Linked DNA regions of Homo sapiens: region 2 is linked to region 1. The links come from fine-mapping of genetic effects on gene expression. A gene starts in region 1. The other region holds a variant in brackets. All regions are shown on one strand. Distances are from middle to middle.

Region 1 (2,904 bases):
GGGAGGCAGAGGTTGCGGTGAGCCGAGATCCCACCACTGCACTCCAGCCTGGGCAACAGAGCAAGACTCCGTCTCAAAACAAAAAACAAAAAAACAGAGCTGAGGTTTGAACCCACAGGCCCCCAATTCCCAAGGCCATGATTTGGACCCTTGTGTTATGTTGCCATAGAAGGTATCTGGGGGCTGGGATGAGCCGTCTTCACCTACATTGTGCTGTGTCCTGCCCAGTGGTTCAGCATAGTTAAGGACAAGCTATTCCTCACATGCATCACCCTTTATAGTCAGCCAGCTCTGTTCTCAGATGCAGTTCATTTATCCTCCTAACCGCCAGGTGAGGCCGGAACTGTCAACTCCATTTTGCCAGTGAGAAAAATGAAGCTCAGAGAAGGGTGTGATTTGCCTGAGACCACACAGCCGGTAACAGGCAAGGTCACACCTTGAACCCGTGTCTTCTGCCTCCAGGTCCAGGGCCTTGCCCTGACACCCTGCCTCTCCAAGCACAAGGGGGTGGGGTGGCCACAAACAGAAGCAGCCCTGTCCTGCCAAGTACACGCCTGCCTGCCACGCACAATGGGAGACATTCCGCAAGTTCCACGTGATGGCTCAGGTGTGGCCAGGCTGAAAGCCCTCCTGGGCCCCCCCACGCCCCTGGGGGACCTCCTCGTGACTCACACTTTTCCTCTTCCTCCCCTTATTCTCCCCAACAATCAGAAACCGGGGTCCCCTCCCTTCCTGAAAACAGAGCTCTCCTCATGAGGCCACAGGGCTTTTTCGACACACAGCTCCTTCCATCCATCTCTGTCTCTGGCCCTGTGGGGCCTTGACAGGGAAACGCTGACTTTGAGGAGGTTAAAGGTGCTGGTGCCCGGCCTTCATCTAACAAATGGGTTGCCGTGAGGGGAGGAACTGTTGTTGTTTTTTCCTGGCCTCAGAAGAGGGGCCTGTCAGGAAGATGTAGGGGCCAGCAGCCCCCGGCCGCGCCCCGCAAGGTGGCTGACAGACGCCAGCAGCTGCCGGGGGCTCCGGGGTGCCAGAGGCCTGTGTTCTCAGGGCAAAGCACCCCACCGCGCCCCCTCCCCATGGCCCTCCTGACCTCCCCACCCACCCCACCATGACCCAGGGCCCACCCCGTCCAGGGGCAAAGGGCCAGGCGCTGGGCCTCCCTGCCATGAGGTCCCTGGGCCAGATGCAGAGGTGGAGCAGGAATCCGGTTACAGCCTGCGGCCAGCCCAGGGGAAGGTTTTCCTAGGGAAGCTGACAAGCCAGATCTTCCTCCCAGCCTCCCACGGATTCCTTCCAGAACCCCCACAGCACAGCGTGCCCCCCACAAAGGACCTCACAAGGCTGTTTCTGTAGAATTTCCTCAGAACTCCCCATTCCCAGGTTCACCCTTTGGGATCATCGAGGTTAACCAGAAATAGATGTGCTAGGAAGGGAGCCACATTTGTCCATTACTTACTCTGCCTTTTGCATAAAGGATTTCTTTCTTTATTTCTTTTTCTTTTTCTTTTTTTTTTTTTTTGAGACAGTGTCTCACTCTGTCGCCCAGGCCGGAGTGCAGTTGTACAATCTTGGCTTACCGCAACCTCTCTGCTTCCCAGGCTCAAGCGATTCTCCTGCCCTCAGCCTCCCGAGTAGCTGGGATTACAGGCATGTGCCACCACACCCAGCTAATTTTTGTATTTCTTTTTTTTTTTTTTTTTGAGATGGAGTCTCGCTCTGTCACCCAGGCTGGAGTGCAGTGACGTGATCTCGGTGCACTGCAAGCTCTGCTTCCCGGGTTCACACCATTCTCCTGCTTCAGCCTCCCAAGTAGCTGGGACTACAGGCGCCCGCCACCACGCCCGCCTTTTTTTTTTTTTTTTTGTATTTCTAGTAGAGACGGGGTTTCACTGTGTTAGCCAGGATGGTCTCGATCTCCTGACCGCATGATCCACCCGCCTCGGCCTCCCAAAGTGGTGGGATTACAGGCGTGAGCCACCGCGCCCGGCCTAATTTTTGTATTTCTATTAGAGACGGGGTTTTACCATGTTGGCCGGGCTGGTCTTGAACTCCTGGCCTCAAATGATCTGCCTGCCTCAGCCTTCCAAAGTGCTGGGATTATAGGTCTGAGCCACCGTGCCTGGCCTACATAAAGGATTTCATTGAAGATTTGCAAATGTCTGTGGGCTGGGCTGCCTCAATTTGAATCCTGGGTCCGCCGCTTCCCTGCTGTGTGGCCTTGTGCAGGTTACACAGTCTATCTGTGCATCAGAGTCTTCTGCTGAAAAACGGAGCTGATAAAAAAAAAAGAGAGAGAGAGAAACGGAGCTGATGAGAATGACTGTTGCCTCAGAAGGCTTTTGTGGGAATCCGTGGGGGTAAAAATGTGTAAGGTGCAAAGTGCCTTACACAGATCCCACTCTGACTGTCATCTCAGATGAGGAAACAGAAGTTCAGAGAGATGGCCAGGCATGGTGGCTCATGCCTGTAATCCCAGCACTTTGGGAGGCCGAGGCGGGCGGATCACGAGGTCAGGAGATTGAGACCATCCTGGCTAACACGGTGAAACCCCGTCTCTACTAAAAAATACAAAAAATTAGCCGGGCGTGGTGGCGGGTGCTTGTAGTCCCAGCTACTCGGGAGGCTGAGGCAAGAGAATGGCGTGAGCCCGGGAGGCGGAGCTTGCAGTGAGCTGAGATCATGCCACTGCACTCCAGCCTGGGCGACAGAACGAGACTCCATCTCAAAAAGAAAAAAAAAAAAAAGAAGTTCAGAGAGATAAGGTGACTTGTTCCAGGGCACACAGCCAGGAAGTGGCAGACCTGGGGCTTGAACTCAGACCCGTCTAACCTCAAACCCCATGCCTCCTCCTCTGCATCTGGCCTGCTCCAAACTGAACAGCAGGACACCTGAGGCCAAGTG
Region 2 (2,904 bases), 9.1 kb after region 1:
TGAAACCCTATCTCTACTAAAAATACAAAAAAAAAAAAAAAAAATTAGCCAGGTGTGGTGGCAGGCACCTGTAAATCCCAGCTACTTGGGAAGCTGAGGCAGGAGAATAGCTTGAACTTGGGAGGTGGAGATTGCAGTGAGCAGAGATCACGCCACTGCACTTCATTCAGCCTGGGTGACAGAGCGGGACTACATCAAAAAAAAAAAAAAAAAAGAAAGAAAGAAAGAAAGAGAGAGAGAAAGGAAGAAAGGAAGGAAGGAAGGAGACAGAGAGAAAAAGAGAGAAAGAAAAAGAAAGAAAGAAAAGAAAGAAAGAAGGAAGGAAGGAAAGAAAGAAAGAAAGAAAGAAAGAAAGAAAGAAAGAAAGAAAGAGAAAGAAAGAAAGAAAAAGAAAGAAAGAAAATGAACAAACGGGGAGAAAGAAAGAAAGCAGGGTTCCTGGCCTTTGGCACTTCCCCACCCTGGAGACCAGCATGGTGTTATCTTACCCAAACCACTCCCAGCCCCAGGCCAATGGGGATTAAAGACCCCTGCTGGCAGGGACAGCTGTGAGGCCACTGTTGTTTTCCCCCAAACTGTCCTTGCTACTGTGGTTGTCTTTAATTTATGGGAATGAAGGATTTTGCGGTGGTTTCCTCATGGGGTTCAAGGGAAGGTTGCGTGTGATTAGAGTGGCTACAGGTGAATCCGATCGCCCGCCTGGGAAAGCCATGGTGCTAGAACTCAGCACTGCTCCCTCCTGCTCTCACGTCCTCACTCTGCTGAGACATGCCTTTAATCAGACGTGATTTGTCTCATCCTTCTTCAGCTCCAACACGTGTGTTCCCAGAGCTGTCCTGCCCCAATTTCTCTTTGCAAGACCTGCTCTATGCCTGCCTCCGCCCAACCACAAATTTGCCTAAGGTATAAAACTCCACAAATAGGCCTCTCTCCTCTTTTCCCTCCTGATGCCCCTTTACAGGCCACCTCCCCGCCCCAGGTCCCCTCCACTACCCCTGCCACGAAGCCACACCCAGGGACTGACCTTGCAAACACATCCTGCATTTTCTTCCCCCTCTCTGACTGTGCTCTGGTGGTTTCTCCTTGCCTAGAGCACTCTCCCCTTCCCCGTACTTCTGCCTGTTGAAGTCCTACTTAAAAACCACCCAGCTCAAAAACAACCCCTTCCAAGAATATTTTTGTTCTTCTTTTTCAAAAATTTATAGCTACATTTGCATATAACATAGTATCAAAGAAAGCTACAGTTAAGAAATGTCGAAGTCTAGTATCTGCTAGAATCTGTGTTGATTTTCTCACTTTAGCTTGCAGTTGTTTCATAAAGGAACTCTTCTGAGGTTTCTTACCTGGGACATCTTATATTTGAAATCTCCTTTTTTAAAAATTGGGGTCAAATACACATAACATAAAAGTTACCGTCTTAACAGTTTTTAAGTGATACAGTACAGTAGTTGTGCAATCGATTTCTAGAACTTTTAATCTTGCAAAACCGAAACTCTATCTCCATTAAACAACGACCTTTTTTCCCTTCCCCCACCCCCTAGCAATCACCATTCTTTCTCTTGCTAAACATTTGACTATTTTAGATACCTTACATAAGTGAAATCATGCAATGTTTGTCATTTTTGTGACTGGCTTAT[G/T]TCACTTGGCATAATGTCCTCAAGTTTCAACCAGGTTGTAGCAAGTGACAGGATTTTCTTCTTTTTTTTTTTTTTTTTTTTTTTTTTAGAAAGACAGGGTCTTGCTATGCTGCCGAGGCAGGTGTTGAACTCAGGGCTTCTAGCAGTCCTCCCACCTTGGCCTCCCAAAGTGCTGGAATTATAGGTGTGAGCCACCATGCCTGGCCTCCTTCTTTCTGAAGACAATAACATTCCATTGTATGGATATACCAAATTTCTTTCTTCTTTTTTTTTTTTTTGAGACGGAGTCTCACTCTGTTGCCAGGCTGGAGTGCAGTGGCGCGATCTCGGCTCACTGCAACCTCCGCCTCCCGTATTCAAGTGATTCTCCTGCCTCAGCCTCCCAAGTAGCTGGGACTACAGGCACACGCCACCACGCCCAGCTAATTTTTGTATTTTTAATAGAGACGGGGTTTCACCATGTTGGCCAGGATAGTCTCAATTTCTTGACCTTGTGATCTGCCTGCCTCAGCCTCCCAAAGTGCTGGGACTACAGGCGTGAGCCACTGTGCCCGGCCACCAAATTTCTTTATCCATTCATCTGTTGATGAACATGTAGGTTGCTTCCACCTCTTGGCAGTTGTGAATAATGCTGCAATGAACATGAGTGTGCAAATACCTCCTGGAGAGTGTATTTTCTTTTTCTTTTTCTTTTTTGAGACGGAGTCTCACTCTGTCACCCAGGCTAGAGTGCAGTGGCGCGATCTCAGCTCACTGCAAGCTCCGCCTCCCGGGTTCATGCCATTCTCCTACCTCAGCCTCCCGAGTAGCTGGGACTACAGGCGCCCACCACCACGTCTGGCTAATTTTTTGTATTTTTAGTAGAGACGGGGTTTCACTGTGTTAGCCAGGATGGTCTCAATCTCCTGACCTCGTGATCCACTGGCCTCAGCCTCCCAAAGCACTGGGATTACAGGTGTGAGTCACTGCACCCGGCTGGAGAGTGTATTTTCAATTCTTTTGAGTGTATACCTAGAAGGGAAATTGCTATATTATGTAGTAATTATATTTTTAATTTTCCAAAAAAATTATTTATTATTAGAATAAAATATAGAGACAGGGGTCTCGCTATGTTGGCCAGATTGGTCTTGAACTCTTGGCCTCAAACAATCCTCCTGCCTCGGCCTTCCAAAGTGCTAGGATTACAGGTGTGAACCACTACACCTGACCATATTTTTAATTTTTCCTTTTTCTTTTTTTTTGAGACAAGAGTCTTGCTGTTGCTCTG

Evidence for each region. PIP is the estimated chance that this variant, and not a neighbour inherited with it, causes the effect. A credible set is the group of variants that fine-mapping cannot tell apart.
Region 2: its variant is the best candidate, but not a certain one, in a credible set for the expression of LINC02594 in whole blood (TOPMed, PIP 0.60).

Annotation. Positions count from the first base shown.
Region 1 is chr17:43,663,555-43,666,458 of GRCh38, reverse strand. LINC02594 (long intergenic non-protein coding RNA 2594) reads right to left here and starts at 1,595. Exons shown (of 4, transcript NR_184089.1): 1 at 1,460-1,595. RefSeq lists an enhancer at 288-813.
Region 2 is chr17:43,654,481-43,657,384 of GRCh38, reverse strand. All of the region lies in intron 1 of MEOX1 (mesenchyme homeobox 1), which reads left to right. Among named protein-coding and RNA genes, the nearest start is that of MEOX1, 6.0 kb to the left of the region's middle. The variant G/T (reference allele first, on the strand shown) is at 1,638.